Regions from separate parts of the Homo sapiens genome. Here region 2 is linked to region 1. A link means that fine-mapping ties the variant in region 1 to the expression of a gene that starts in the linked region. Tissue or cell type: fibroblasts. Region 1 holds a variant in brackets; the other region holds the start of a gene. All regions are shown on one strand. Distances are from middle to middle.

The links. PIP is the estimated chance that this variant, and not a neighbour inherited with it, causes the effect.
Region 2: GLUL starts here. The variant in region 1 is fine-mapped to the expression of GLUL in fibroblasts (GTEx, PIP above 0.99). The same link has a PIP of 0.9 or more in whole blood.

The regions. Positions count from the first base shown.
Region 1 is chr1:182,140,742-182,149,009 of GRCh38, reverse strand. No RefSeq gene overlaps it. Among named protein-coding and RNA genes, the nearest start is that of ZNF648, 83 kb to the right of the region's middle. RefSeq lists enhancers at 4,115-4,782, 4,783-5,451 and a silencer at 5,460-5,636. The variant A/G (reference allele first, on the strand shown) is at 4,588.
Region 2 is chr1:182,387,164-182,395,163 of GRCh38, reverse strand. GLUL (glutamate-ammonia ligase) reads left to right here and starts at 3,374. Exons shown (of 7, transcript NM_001033044.4): 1 at 3,374-3,485; 2 at 6,414-6,592; 3 at 7,872-8,000. The coding sequence starts at 6,427. RefSeq lists a silencer at 2,959-3,638.

The sequences.
Region 1 (8,268 bases):
CCTGCATGTTTATCTCCCTGCCAGCAGCCCTCCACCTTTAGAGCTTTCCCTAATAACCTGAGGACTTCCAGAGTGAAGCAGGAATAGGGAGGCAGTGAGATGTAATAGGAAGATCTTCCCAGAGCTGAGATGTCCCAGGTGTTCAATGAAATATTTTGGGTTTGGTAGAACATTTTTAAAAAATATTTTTGAACATTGGCACTAAAAATAAAACCCAAACTCATCCCTTCTCCTTTAGATTTTTTCCCAGCTCCTTTGCACCAGACATTCAGTAACTGATACTCCTTGAGCATCTAGTATGTGCTGGGCACTATAATAAGCTCTAATGAAACAGAGAAATCAGAGTTCTTGCCCATAAGGAAGGAGTATACAGTCAAAGAAAATTCCAATTATATTTATCATTTGCTCACATACACCTTAGAGACCTACTATGTGCCAATTCAGTTTTTATCAAACATAGTCTACCGGCCTAACCTGATAAGTTTGCTGGTAGAGGAAAGGAGGTAGGAAAGTTGGTGCCTGCCACTGAGGGGTAGGGTTTAACAGTAATAGGAGAAGGAAGTAGGAGGAAGGAAGGATGGGAATCGGGTAGGGAACCACGGTGTCCTCCTCTTGCCTGGGGCCATTGGAGACCCCCCACATGCTGTTACTCACACCCATGCAAGGGGCTTCTTTGCTCATCATCTGGGTTTCCAGGTAGGGCTGGGCCAGCAGAAATCTATAGGGGCAGAACATCCCACCCTGGTGCCTTTCTCTGAGGCCAGGGCCCATGGGAAAAGCTAAGGCAGGGCTGTGGCCTCAGATTACACTGTCACTCCCACGAGGCCGAGGAGTTTGGAGAACAGGGTTCTGGCACCGAGGAAGGCCTCTGAATTCTGTCTCAAACCCATGATTAACACTGTAATCTTAAGTCACTTGACCACTCTGTGCCTCGGTTTTCCTCAGCCGTAAAAAGGGGAAAGAGTACCTAAATCATTGGGTTACTATGAGAATTAAATAATTTAACCCTGCATAGCATATAGTTCATGCTCAGCAAGGGGTCACTGGCCCAGACAGTACACCAAGGACCCACACATGTGTCTTCTAGTCAAGCAAGCGTTCAACCAGACTCAAATTTTATCAAAAACTATTGTCATTATCTGAAGCACATGGTAATGAAGTCGTCTGAATAACTAGTTCAAAATTGTTTTGAACATAGTGATCCTTGGAAAATGAAAAAAATATATAAGTATTTTTCTAAACTGGAATGTGGCAGGGAGTAGATTAGGAACCCACTTTCCATCACTTTCCAAACATGACCAGATTTAACTGGACATATTCTGACACTCCATCCTGGAGATGGCTTCTTTAAGGAGCAGTTGTTGGGCAACAGCTACTTTCATCATTTTGGTTAGAAACTAACCCTGAGTAACCAGTCTTATGAGAGAAAACAGTTAATGTCTTAAAAATCTTTCTGACTCCAACTCCAGTGAGTAGGAATTTTAAGTCATGAATACTACTAATTGTAATACCCTGACTACTGATTATCATTATAGCTAACATGTATTGAGACCTTACTAAATACCAGGCACTGTCATAAGTGCTTTGCATGCATTAACTCATTTAGTCATCAGAAATAACCCCCAAATTGGTGTTATTTTCATTTCTGTTTGACAAACAAGGAACTAAGGCGCACAGATGTTGAGAAACTGACCTGTGGTCACACAGCTACTCTGCAGGCAGCTGGTACTGTGGCTCCTACGTGTAACTGGCCCTAACAGACATAGCTCCTCGCTGTTCTCTTAAACTTAGTACGTGGGGTTGAATATTCCTTTCTTATGGAAAGATTACAGTTTCATTTTTCTCAGTGAGGAAATTATTTTCATAAATTGATTGGATTTATTCTACACACAAGGTATTAGAATCAACATAGTTTTTTTTTTTTTAAGTTTCTATGTTTCCATTTTACTTTTTTTTTTTTTTTTGAGACAGGGTCTGGCTCTGTCACCTAGGCTGGAGTGCAGTGGCATGATCCCAGCTCACTGCAACCACTGCCTCCTGGGTTCAAGTGATTCTCCTGCCTCAGCCTCCTGAGTTGCTAGGATTACAGGCATGCGCCACCATGCTCGTCTAATTTTTGTATTTTTAGTAGAGACGGGGTTTCACCATGTTGGCCAGGCTGGTCTCGAACTCCTGACCTCAAGTGATCTGCCTGCCTCGACCTCCCAAAGTGCTGGGATTACAGGTGTGAGCCATTGTGCTTGGCCCATTTTACTATTTTTATGCTTACTTTGTATCTACAGAAGTGATATAGGTTTTGCATGTAAAGTGAAATTATCACTTTTACTTCTGAAACAAAATGATTTAAGTCAGAAAGTTTGCTTACAGGAAAATTAATGTAGTATGAAGCAGTATTACCAGGTGTCTGTGGGTGTGGTTGTGTACCCTGAGGGTATGGTACCGCGGGGCTGGTATGTGTACCCTGAGGCTTGGTGAGCACCTGGTCAGTGAGCCGGTGTTTGCCTGGACAAGTCTGAGCTGCAGTTGACACAATGGCCATTGGCCAAACTGGTGGAAAGTTTCAATGACAGGTAAACAAAAGACTGAGGACCAGGAGGGGAACAGCCAAAGAGGATGTAGGTATTACAAAGGAGAATTTGGGGAACATTCTACTAACCCGATAAGTAGCCGTGTGTTCAAAAATGTCTTTTGCCCTTCCCTGAGCCAGTCTTCCTTCAAAATGTTAACAATACCACTGTTTCTTTCATTCCAAGAAGCTTGATCTTCACACCTGACATTTCAGAGATCCTGTGTCTTACAATTGATGTGTATGTTTAACAGAGAAACATTTTTCTTCTCCTTTCCCCCTAAAAGCTGTTATTAACTCGCTGCTGTGTCTTAGTCAATGGCTTCTTAGAGTCTAGAAAATACAGTAAGAGTGATGTACGAGAATACGTGGTTTTGAATGTGGTGCTTAAGATACATCTTTGACTTAACAATTGCCTTAAAATCCTACCTTAACAAAAATTTAGCTCTTACTTTCAATTTTGATTTGCTTTTGATTAGACACAAGTAAGGAGTGAAGCCAGACACAAACCCAGCTCTTCTCATTTGAAGTTCAGAATTCTTTCCCCTGCATTCCATAATTTCTCCATATTTATCTCAGAGGACTATGCAGAATATGACAGTGGGTTACCATGGAATATCTGGGCAAGGAGCTCTAAGAGTAAAACTCCAGGCCAAAGACAAAACAAGTATTCAAATCCCAAGGCATCTCTGTGAGATGACAGATGCTCTTGTCTGCTCTTCAGATCCGAGGGGTTTCCGGAGGGCCAGCAACCATGCCCCCAACACGTAGATGGCTTAGCTTGCCTAAGAAGGGCGGGCATTGTAGAAATCTGGACAGTTCTGCTGACCTTCCTCTTTCTGTCTCCCCACTCTTGATTTTTTATGTTAGTCCCCATGGCACACCCTCTTTGTGAAGTCTCTCCAAATGGAAGCACAAGCTCTCCCGAAGGATCCCACACCCCACAGAGTGATCTCTAGGGTTGCCCATAGCAACAGCTGGTACCATGGAAAAAAGCCTTCCTTTCATCCGTCAGAGCTGGGCAGTAGGACCCTCTCCCAGGACCCCAGGAACAAGGTCTTTTTCTAGCTCTGCTATGGAAACTTGGGTGACACACATCACCTCTTGGAGCCTCAGTTTCCTCATTTACCAAATGAGGCTGATGTGAAGTCATTTTAGAGTCCCACTGAGGACCACTACTGTGATTTTCCTTCACCAACATGAGATACATGTGGCTGGTTTCAGGCTCTTTCCTGAAGCAGATCTTAGTACTGGGGAGGATGGACGGTGATGTCGCCACTGAGAGTGATGAGAGAGAGCAGACCCACCACCAGCTGCCCTCCTGATCCTTGGAAGGCCAGTCTCACATCTCAACATTCCCAGCCACCTTGTTACCAACGCTTGTGGAAAATTTGATTTGGACAGAAGGGACTCCAGCCCCTTTTAAGTATACATATGCACATGCTTTAATTATTAACTGCTTAATGTTGTCATTGAAAATATTTATTTTAATACTACTCTAAAAGAGTGAACATTTTTCACGTATTGACCCACAGCTGATTTCTTATCTGCTGTTACCAAGAACAAGAAAGGAGAGAATAAAGCTGAGGAAGGTGGCAGGCTCGATAAATGTTAGATTGAACTGTTCTTTTTCAGTGCATGCCCTGCCCTTATCACTGATATTGCCATTTTCTACTTTCTTTTTTTTTTTTTTAAAGTGTATTTTGAAGGCAAATAAGAAAAGAGAGCTATGGTGTAGTCTGGAAAACCAGGGTGTTTACCGTTTAGAGGAACCAGAAGTTCATAAGGGCCTGGCTGGACTAAGAAATGACAGCTCAGCACAGGGAAGGGGGGAAAAAAACCAACAGCAGCAGCAGCAGCAATGCAAGAACAAAACATTTTAAGAGATCTGGCCAGAACTGGTCTGTACAAATCCCCAGCTTGGCCTTCCTCCTCCACTCCCCCTGGCTCCCAGGCCTGTTTCCCGGAGTAGTAGCAGCCTTGCCTCCCCTTAAGAAACCTGCCCACAACTCACACTCCCT[A/G]CATGCCAGTCATGCACACTCGTGTGTGTCACACCCTCTGCTCATCCCCCCACCCACTGAAGTCAGACCATGTGTGAGGGAGGATGAGAAGCCGGGGAAGAGGAAGACAGCTCAGCTGGCTGGCCCTGGCCCCTGAAGAAAACAAGCAGAGGCAGGGAGGGAAACATACTGTTCCCTGCAATCTGATCACCTCCGTGCAAGCCTCTGGGCTACACACCCAGGCCCAGGCCCAGAGGCCACGCTAATGAGACCAGGCAGGAAAAGTGAGCTGGTGACTGTTCCTGGGCAGATTAGAAACACATTGTGGAGAAGTGGGGGCACGGTGAGGGTGTGCAGGGCAGTGTGGTTGAGGCTGGGTGTGGGGCTGGGGCATGCGGGCCCAGAAAGGAGCAGAAGAAGGACTGCTGTCTTTCTGAGCTCTGATTCCAGCTCCTGGGGTGGCCCCCTGGCAGCTGCTGAGGCCTCACAGTGAGAAATCTGGAACAACAAAGGCTCTGGGACAAAAGACTCTCTGGCCAGAGGGGCTGCTGCTTTACAGGGGCCAAAAGCTTCACTTCTGAGGGGCACGTGGGTCCACCAGTGTGGGAGGCTGCAGGCTGAGAGGCAAATGGGGTTTATTGAGGAAAGGGAACAGATGTTTATTGGGCATTTGCTGGGTGCCCCCATTAAGCTAGGCTCTTTTTATGTATTTCACTGTGTTTGAGATCACTGTGAAATCCTCACTGCATCGGAAAATGGGAAGCAAATAGCTTTTTTCTTTTTATTAGGTCAGTGACACCTAGAGTTCGCCCAATATCACATCAGTGCCATTTGTTTGAAAAGTTAACCAGAGGCCAGCTGGGATTTTTGTCACTAGGAAAACAATGTAGCATGCGCTTCTTTAGCTTCCAGTCCAGGCAAGGACCTTCGGGGGTGTGAGGATGGAAGTATGTCTTCATGCTTTCTCCTGTGAGCCGCCAACCCACAGAACTGCTGGACCCTCAGCCCTTCAAATCCATCCTCCGGGAAGGTGCCTCTCAAACCTGCAGGGCCACCGCTGAAGTTCTCCCACGGACTCTACTCTAGCGCCCTCTGGTGGCCACCACTGCCAAGCCTGGTTGACTTGACTGGGAATTTCTGGTTAATAGCAGCTACGTTAATATCACTTAGCCCAGCTTTGTGAAGGTTCACTTGTGCTTTTACTTCACCTCTGATTTCTGCGTTATCATTACTCTTTCCATGTTTCCACAGCCTTTGTCAGTTCTCTGCTGCTTCATCTACGTTATTTTCATGGGGACCTGTGTTATTTTCATGGGAACCCCAAAATCAGGGAGATGTTTTCTTACCAAGATCTTTGTTTTGTACTATATTGCCAGTGGACCAACTTCGTTTTATTGGAATTTTTTTTTTTATTTTCTGGAGGATCTTTCTCCCTTCCTCCCCTTAGGAATTCAGGACACATTTCTGAAAGACTGGTTTTACTATGTGAGAAGCACAATGTTGTATACTATTTGAATTTGAGCTTCCCTTGTCCAGGGACGGAGTGTGGGCATGCCACCTCTGTTCAGTTATGGGGTGAGTTTCTTGGCCGCCTGGGACCCCTGCCTCCCGCCCAAGAATGCAGGTGAGAGCGTTTGCCCCTGGTTTTGACCAGGATGCCCAGTCCTGGTGTCTGAATTCCACCCATGAAGCCTGACCAAGCACAGTGGGAAAATCAGCCTATGGCCAATGGACATGGAGGCCAAGTTTGAGGGAGAGGGAGTTTGCCCAGAGTGGCAGCTGCAGATATGATCTGAAGGGTAAATGCTCACTGCAAAACAGGAGGGGAGCCAAGGTCAGAACCAGAGAGGCAGGGTCAGGCAAAGGGCATAGAGAAGAGCAAGAAGCTAGAGAGAGGAGAGGAGGCACACACACAGTTGGGACCAAAGAGGCCAGGTGAGATCTGGGAGGGGATGGTGAAGAAGCACAAGGCAAGGATGCCAGGGCTCTCATCAGGGGCCTGCTGTGTGTGGCATGGGTCTAAGTGGGTAAACCACAAGTCTGCAGATCTGACCTAGTTCACAGAGCCAAATGTACTCTCCAGATGTCAGGTTACTGTTTCTCCAGGGAGGCCCGTCAAGACCACAGGTAAATAGAATCCCCAGTAAGCCAGCCCCATGGCACAATTCCATGGATATAGAGCATGGGTATCTCTGGGGCCTTTGTCACACGAGTGTAGCTGGTGGATTAGCAGGGCCTTTATTTATGTCGGGCTTCATTTACTTGTTAATTTGTTCTTTAATCATTTATTCACTTCTATTTGACCAATGTTTTCAGGTGTCTACTGATGTTCTAAGTAAAATCCTGGGTAATGGAGCAGAAAGACAAATAAGATATGGTTTTGACTATTGTAAAGTCTGGATTTTCTGATTCAAAATTCAGTATCCCAGCCAGGCATGGCGTCTCATGACTGTAATCCCAGCACTTTGGGAGGCTGAGGTGGGCAGATACTTGAGGTCAGGAGTTGGCCAAGACTAGCCTGGCCAACATGGGGAAACCTGGTCTCTTTTAAGAATACAAAAATAGGGGCCGGGTGCTGTGGCTCATGTCTTAATTCCAACATTTTGGGAGGCCGAAGTGGCCAGATCACCTGAGGTCAGGAGTTCAAGACCAGCCTGGCTAACATGGTGAAACCCCCATCTCCACTAAAAAATACCAAAAAATTAGTCAGGCATGGTGGCAGACACTTGTAGTCTCAGCTACTTGGGAGGCTGAGGCAGGAGAATTGCTTGAACCCAGGAGGCAGAGGTTGCAATGAGCCAAGATCACGCCATTGCACTCCAGCCTCAGCGACAGAGCGAGGATCCGTCTCAAAAAAAAGAAAAAAAAGAAAAAAAAAGAAAAAAGGCTGGGTGTGGTGGCACATGCCTATAATCTCAGCTACTCAGGAGGCTGAGGCATGAGAATCACTTGATCCCGGGAGCCGAAGGTTGTAGTGAGCCAAGATCATGCCACTGCACTCTATCCTGGGTGACAGAGCAAGACTCTATCTCAAAAAAAAAAAAAAAAAAAAAAAAAAAAAGAAAGGAATCTCTGTAGTCTCTTTGGCTAATCTCCAAAATCCTGCTTTAGGCTCCCCAAAGCCAAACCTTTGCCAAACCTTTTATTTGAAGCTGAGGTGGCAAAAGGATAACCACACAAATTCCTTGAGCTCTGCAGGTAAACAGCTAGGTCCAGGGAGGCTACAGGGTGACCTCACCCAGCCTCAGGTCATAGGCTTATAGTAAGCCACAGCTGCAGGTATTATCTGCACCTTAGAGAATTTCTCCAGGCTTCACCACCTGAACTCTGCTACAAACCCTTCCCTTCTCTGTGCTGTTTTCCCTGGATCATGATCCTAGAGTCTCCTTGCCTAGGTCCTCTGCTTTGATGATGAATCTCTGGAATGTTGCCCATGAATTTAACTTCCATTTTTCCCTTGGATCCCTCCCTCACCTCCATGCACTACATCCCTCTGCAAGATTCCTGGAGCCCCAGCATCTCCGGTTTCTAAGATACAGCATCCCAGCCTCTGTCTAGCTCCTAGGGTTCCTGCTTGTTTAGAGAAAAGATCAGGGTTGGGTTCTACAGCCTGAGATGAAACTTGGCTGTTTCCACCCATTGCAACACAGGACCCGAGAGCCAAGAAGGATGAGAACAAAGTAAAAGTTAGTTAGGAACAGG
Region 2 (8,000 bases), 250 kb before region 1:
AAAGACAGAGAAAGGGCCGGGCACAGTGGCTCACGCCTGTAATCGCAGCACTTTGGGAGGCCGAGGCAGGCGGATCACAAGGTCAGGAGTTCAAGACAAGTCTGGCCAATATGGTGAAACCTCGTCTCTACTAAAAATACCAAAAAATTAGCTGGGTGTGGTGGCACACGCCTGTAATCCCAGCTCCTTGGGAGGCTGAGGCAGGAGAATTGCTTGAACCCGGGAGGCAGAGGTTACAGTGAGTGGAGGTTGCAGTGAGCCGAGATTGCGCCACTGCATCCAGCCTGAGCAACAGAGTAAGACTCCGTCTCAAAAAAAAAAAAAAAAAAAAAAAAAAAAAAGAGAAAAGTTGTTTCCTAATAGAGATAAGATTTGGGAGTAGAGCAAAATCCTAATACAAAGCTTTTATTTCAGGCAGCAGAACAACATTGAAGAAATACTTTTAATCTCAGGCTATTTCTGCAGATTTGGAACAAAATCTTTCCCTGTAATTGCTCTCCCACTCCACCCACCCCTTGGACATGGCAATTCTACTCTAAGAGAGAAAAATATGACTTCAAAGCACATGCAATGGAACCCCTTGTCAGCACTGATATGGTGTGTACCAAGAAACAGAAAAGTTCATGGGTTCAAGCATTCTAATGCTCTTTTTATGGTGGGGGTGAAGAATGGGGGCGGGTGGCAATTTAGGGAAGAAGGGGAAGGAGAAGAAAGGGCAGCAGACACAGCAAAGTCAAACTGGATGAAACAGGCTGTTTTACTTTTAACTTCTCTAAAAGTACAGTCTGGGTTTCTGCGGGTGAACCAGTTAAGGGTTTTCTTCTGCTTTTACTTCTCGCCTATGCTCAAGCCTCCCTGGTCAGTTCTTGGACTCATCTGCGCCCTAATTTCATCATTTTAAGTAAATGTGGGGCTGGCCAAGGAGGACAAGGCCTCTTGTTCACTCCTGAAAGAGTCAGTGGTCATGTATTATGTTCCTAACCCTTACAAAGCGTGCCCCTGGTCACATGAATGGATCAAAGCAAATCCATTTCCATTCTTGGAAAAGCAGCTCAAAGCACATGTTCTCTTGATGGTGCTGCTGTCACTTCTGTGTGGTTAACAAATATCATTTATTGAACACTCACCGTGGACACTACTGGGGGATATGACAATGAATAAACTGCTCAATGAGGTCAAGACATCTAGGAAGGGAAGCAGGCACTCAAATGGCAGAAATACCATAAGCCTGCAGAACCGCACTCACGCCTTACCATTCCGTTCTCTGTTATGTTTGTCATCCCCACCTCAGGGGCTGGTGGTGTGTGCAGCAGAGGCTCTGGCTTATGGTTCGGTAGTTTGGTATCTGGAAATGATTAATAACATCTTTTAAAATAAAAATATCACTTTTCTCCTCCTTTGCTCCCCTTCCTCGACCATTTAAACTCAAACCTTTACAGAAAGAGATGAAGACAGCTCACTGTGTTACCAAGGTTAAGTCCAGTTTGATATAATGAATGGTAAAGCATTACACTGAGTCAGAAAAGTTGTATTCAAAAGTCGCTATGGGGAAAGAAAGAATCCAATCACCTCAGATTATAGAACTTGGCCTATGATAATTATAATTGCTGTTTTCTAAACATTTACGATGCACCAAGGACTACTCAATCTCTTCTGCATGTGCTATCACAATTAATCCTTTTATGAGGTAAAAATGATTATCCCTCTTTTATTATAGACAAAGAAACAGGCTTCATGTGGCTAAGTGATTTGGCCAACACAAAGCTGGTATGAAGGGAAAGCCCAGATTTGAACCTAGGTTTACCTGACTTGCAGCCGTGCCTTTAGCCACCACAATGTAATGCTTCAAGGGGCAGCACTGAAATTTAACAAGGAATTTGTAAGGCACCTTACCCAATCCAAAATGTCACCAGTCTGAAACATCCCAAAAAACCCTGTTTGAGATGAATGCTGCATCTGTCATGTAAAAGCACTACAGTGTTATACACTCTTAAAGGAAAGGGATGTTGACCAAAGAAGCCAAGTTATGTGTGTGTGGTTGCAGGCAACATTTCTTTTCCACATTTGCGGTACAAAACATAACCAGAACAAACTTCTTCCCTTCCTCTTCCAAAGGCACTGGAAGCATAAATTCTTGCTCTTTAAACTGAAAGAAGCAATAAAATCTGGACACCATCAGGTAGATTTCAGGCACTAAAAATAGAATGATCGAGTAATAGTACGGATAGCAGTATCTACCTACCTACCTACCTACCTACCTATGTTGTGTCTCTAGGTACATTTCAATATTGTGTTCACATACACATTTTCCCAACCATCACGGCAAGCTGAGAGGAGAGGTATGTATTCCCATTTTCCAGATTAACAAGAAGCCGCACTTGATAAAGCAAAATCAGGGAGAATTCGTTAAAGGAATTTCTTGACAATCCCTGGACTTCAAAGGGGGCAAGTGAACACCTCGATTTCCTTTCAGCTGCTCCGGGGGCAGTTTGCACACAGAATTTCAAATCTAGTGGGCGGCTCCACAGGTCATTTTCGATGACCACTTTATTTTGCAGATGAGGAAACTTGGGCCCTGAAAGACCTGCCTAGGGTCTGGCCAGCAGTATGAGACAGGTCTCCAGACTTAGTTTCTACCGCCCTCCAGAATCCTCTCTGTAAAATTAGAGAAACAGCACGTTGATTTCAAATGTGAAATGGCAGAGTTCTGTTTATTTCCCCAGACCCAAGAGAGCCGGAGCGGGCGGCTCTTCCAGGCCTTGGGAACCCCGGCCTGTCCCCAGGCCCGCGCGGCACCCGCCCTAGCCCAGGCCCGCCCAAAGTTCCCTCGGGTCCCGCGCCCCGCGCTCCCTCTCAAGCTAACCCCTGCCCGCAGGAAGCGGGGCTCGGAGGCTCCCTCGCAACAAAAGGCTAAATTCGGTTTCCCTGGTTCCGCATTTCCCCAGGGAGCTCTCCTCGTAAAACTATTCCCCGTGAAGGCGGCAGGGCAGAGGTCCAGGGCGGGCTTTGCTGGGAGCCTCGGGACCCCGGGTTGGGGGCCGTGGGGCGGCACCTGGCGAGCTGGCGGGTGGGCGGCGAGCCGAGGCTTCCCGGCCTGGCGGCAACTCGCCCCTCTGCCCTCAGCCCTCCCGGCTCCGCTCCCTTCCCCCACGCCGCCCTGCCCCTCCCCCACGCCCCTTTCTCTTTCTTTCTTTCTTTCCCAGTTCGCTTGCCCCCACCCCAGCGGCGCCCGCCGGGCTCCTCGCCCAATGGCCGCGGGGCCCGGGACCGCATCAGCTGATCGGCCCGGGCTCCTGGCCGCTGGGAGCCAATCAGGGCACCGGGGGCGGCCCCGGGCCGCGGATAAAGGGTGCGGGGCTGCTGGCGGCTCTGCAGAGTCGAGAGTGGGAGAAGAGCGGAGCGTGTGAGCAGTACTGCGGCCTCCTCTCCTCTCCTAACCTCGCTCTCGCGGCCTAGCTTTACCCGCCCGCCTGCTCGGCGACCAGGTAAGCCCCCGGACGGCCCGGTGTCACGCAAGCGAGGCGCGCCGCCCCTGCTACCCCGCGAGGCGCGCCGCCCAGCCTCTTTTTTCGGCTGCCTGCCCCTCCAGTCCCAGCCCTACGCTGCGGCCTCTCCGGCCCATGCCTGAGATCCGGCATGAGTGCTCCTCCCGCGTGCTTCCGCCGCTGGTGGCTTGGACCCGTCGGGGCTGGCGCTGGTGGGGCGCGCCCTTGGCCAGGCTCTGGGAAGGGCGGGGTGAGTTGTTTTGATCTTCTTTTCACTACTTGCGGCCGAAGCGCCGCCCCTGGAGGCCGTTGGGCCGGCCTGCGCCCTGGGGCTCGCAGTGGTTTGTTTGCGCTGTGGATGGAGTGGCGGTGCGGTCCCCTGTGGAGCGCAAACAAGGCGCTTGGTTGGCGCGGGCGCCTGGCTGCCTTCCTCGTGGTGGGGCCTTCGGAGCAATCGTCCTGGTTCTGGCGATGGTTGAGACGCCTCGATTGCGGCGTGTAACGGTGAGCGTTGTTTGGGCGGCCGGCTCCCGCCTCGGGGTCCCGGGGGCCTTCCAATGTGACCGAACAATGGAGAGCCCGGGCCTCGGCGCAGTCAGTGGAGAAGCCGGTCCGGGCGGAGGCAGCAGCAGCGCGCAGTCCCTACGGCCTGCGCCCCCACCCTCCCCCGGACCCCCCAACCCCTCGGCGGCAGGGTATGGCCACCTCCGTGAGGCCCTGAGATTCGGACGGGGGCCCGAGGGGCAGGGCGCCCACTTTAGGGACATTTCAGTGGGAAGGGGCTGCTCTCAAAGTGGATAATTATAACTCCCTCGGGGGCGGGAAGCGGGGATCCTCCCCCAGCCGCAAGTCCACGAAGAAAGCAACGAATGAAAATTATGAAGACAACGAGAAGTCAGACTCCTCCGGGTCGCGCTCCAGCTGCTTCGGCTTCGTCGCCTACTCTGTGAACTCCGGGGAGAGATCTCGAGTCAAGATTAAGACCTTAACCCACCAACCTGCCTGTTCGGACACCCCCCGGGCCGGCCGCTGTCTGTCCCCTTCTCCATCGCCCTCTCCCAGAAAGCTCCGGTGCTTGGACCAGCTAGAGTCTGAGAAAGAGGAGAGGCGCGAACGCCACTCCAAAAAGAGAAGGGTTAAAGAGGGCAACCCTAACGATACGCTTGACTTTCTGTGGCTGGGGTGAGTGAGGGGGCAGGGAGGACGACCCCGGAGTTGGTGGGAGCTGCAGAAACTGCTGAAAACTTCAGAATCCATTTCCCCCACGTAAACTTGGCACCGCAGCAGCAGCAGTTGATAGAGTGGCACTAGGCTGCTGGCATGCAACTCGGCTCACGGAAAAGAGCAAGAGATCCGAAACTGAGGCTTAGGACAAAGTGTGCATGATATTGGTGGTGTAACATGTTGGAGAGGACAGCCGAGAAATTGGGTTGTAGGTTTTTTTTTTTTGTTTTCCGACAGAGTCTCTATCTGTTACCCAGGTTGGAGTGCAGTGGTGCAATCTCCCGGCTCACTGCAACCTCTGCCTCTGGGGTTCAGGCGATTCTCCTGTGTCAGCCTCCCGAGTAGCTGGGATTACAGGCGTGCACAACCACGCCCGGCTAATTTTTGTATTTTTAGTAGAGACGGGAGTTTCATCGTGTTGGCCAGGCTGGTCTCGAACTTTGTACCTCAGGTGATCTGCCCGCTTCGGTGGGTTGTAGCTTTTAGCGGGAGCTAAAGGGTTCTGGGATGGAGGTGGGAAGTAGGATTTGGCCGGCTGAGTCTTCTAGAGGCAATATTGGGGTGTTGGTCTTCCCCAAGGGGAAGGGTGGTGAGGCTGAGGGAGAAGCAGTTATGTTTTCAGCTGGGCAAACATGGACGGTTGCCCGTAGAAACTTTGCCACTGTACTTCAGAACGTTGCCCTAGTCGTTGGAGGAGAACAATGTGTTCCCTTTCTAGCCACCCTGGTCCACGGAGGGAGGAGGGAGAGAGAGAATGTTTCCTCTTCGGCTGTTGTGGCTTGAGAGTTTCTCTTCTTTCGGAGGTTTTGTGGTAGTGGCTGGCAGTTATTAGTATGCCTCATGGCTTTTAAATTTCCAGATCTTTTTGATTTAGAAGTGGAAATTTCCTAATTACTTGACAAGTCTTGTAGAATTCCATAATGTTGTGATTCTTGCCCACTATCTTAAGTGAGACTTTGCATGAGACCTATGGAAATTATGGCAGCATTCCCCTTAGAATCTGGCTTGAATCAGCTTTTGTGTAGGAAACTGCTAGCCTTCTAAAAAAATATATTGTAACCTTGTTTCATCCTCAAATCTAAATGTGTAATGAGTTTTCTTTTGGTGGGGAGGGGCGGTGGGTTTGAGTTAAGACCACAGCTAGGATGAAAGACAAAGAGAAAAACAAACTGTGGAAGCCAAGCCTGTTCTGTGGCTGGATTTTACTTATATTGGAAGAAGTTCTATGTTTTGTAAATTTGTGTATTGGTTTTGATTTGTTTCCTCTGATAGTTTAGTATTTGGATAGTTTAGTGTTAACCTCAGCTACACTGAAGGAATAGACCTTAGTCCTCACAAGTATAAGTTCTAGCTTGGAAGCCTGGGTTCTGCAGTAGCTGTGGAACTTAAGCCTGTGAGCTCAGGGATGCAGAGGCATTGAGTTACTACCAAGGGCCTGATCTTTTCTTTAGCAGGCATCTGTGTTAATTGTTTCAAAAGGTGGTGATCAGTTTTACAGCCTATTATAAAGGAGATTTTTGCCTACTATAAAACTAATCCCCCTGAAAGAGTGAGTAAACATAACTTTTTGTGTGTTGACTTCCACAAGGGAAGGAGTTGGCACTTACACTCTGACTTTTGATTCAGTCGTCCTTCTTGAGCCATTTTTGCAGGGGATCAGTTTGGAGTGGGCGTTAACAATGTTATTCTTTTTTTCTTCTCCAGAACACCTTCCACCATGACCACCTCAGCAAGTTCCCACTTAAATAAAGGCATCAAGCAGGTGTACATGTCCCTGCCTCAGGGTGAGAAAGTCCAGGCCATGTATATCTGGATCGATGGTACTGGAGAAGGACTGCGCTGCAAGACCCGGACCCTGGACAGTGAGCCCAAGTGTGTGGAAGGTGAGACAGCAATGTGGAGTGGAGCACATGCTGGGTGGGATCTGCAGAGGGGTGGGCAGCAGCCTTTGACTCAGCCTCTGGATTAGGCCTCTTTCTTCTGTTTGTAAAGGTTTTCTAAGGCAGGGCTTTTCAGACTTTATTCAGTCAACATTAAGCTCCTACACTGCCTCAAAGCAGAGCGACGATGGAACCCTTTATTTCAATGGAATTGTGCACGTAGGCCAGTGTATTGAAGAAAAACTAAGTCTGGTTTATGGAGAGTTGGCATGGGGCTTAGAGGTTGCCGACCTGGACATCCCCACTTAGCTGGCTCTAAGGCACCCTCAGAAAACCACTGCTCTAACCTGAGAATGCCATCTAGTTTACAAACTCTTAGAAAACTGTGTTTAATACTCATATCACTGGCTTCTAGATGTGAAGCAAATGCTCTACAATGGTTTTTAAATAGGACTAATTTTTAGTTGATGCCACTTTTGGAAATTCTTAAACTAATTGCGTATCCCTCTAGGAGCTACAGTTAGATTATAGTTGTGACCTTCATTTTTCAGTCTAGAACAAGCCATAGTCTTCCCTCTTCTGGAAAGGGGCCAGAGGAAAGTATCATATCCTACCTAGTTTAGGGTAGTTTACTTTTCCTTTTTGAGTAAGTGAATGATCATAATACAAAGCCTATATTGTGTACTTGCTATGTGGCAGATGATAGTGCACAGACACTGAAGATACAAAGTGAGAGTCTCGTCTCTGCCTTCAGAGAACTCAGTCAGCTAGAGAGACCAAGCAGCCTTCAAAACAGTGGGAAAGGTGGATAGGTGATAAGGGAGCATCCTAGAGTAAGTCATCCTGCTAGTCGTCTGTTCCCTCATCTATAAAATAAGGACATAACTTGCCAGAATACACTGGGGGCATAAGAAGGATGCAACACATTACCTAATGGAAGAATCAGAATCCTTCACTATCTCAATATTTTAAGTGATTGATAGGATGGTAGTGATAACAGAATGCTTCAGCTTGTCTCCTGGAAGACATTTGGGAAGGGAGTATCTGATATATTTCTTTTAAGGAATTGGTACAATGGTCTTACTTGGAACTCAAATAGGAAGGGCTATAAGATCAGGTACAGGTGCCAGGGTATACATATTAATGATGGCATTTATACCTTAATGAATTCCTGGAAAAGAGATATTTAGAGATGGGAAGGTGAGTGAAGGGCTGGCTGTATTTGCATTGCTTGGAAAGCTCCTGTATGTTTTAAATGTAATTTTCCCTCTTTTTGCCCCAGAGTTGCCTGAGTGGAATTTCGATGGCTCTAGTACTTTACAGTCTGAGGGTTCCAACAGTGACATGTATCTCGTGCCTGCTGCCATGTTTCGGGACCCCTTCCGTAAGGACCCTAACAAGCTGGTGTTAT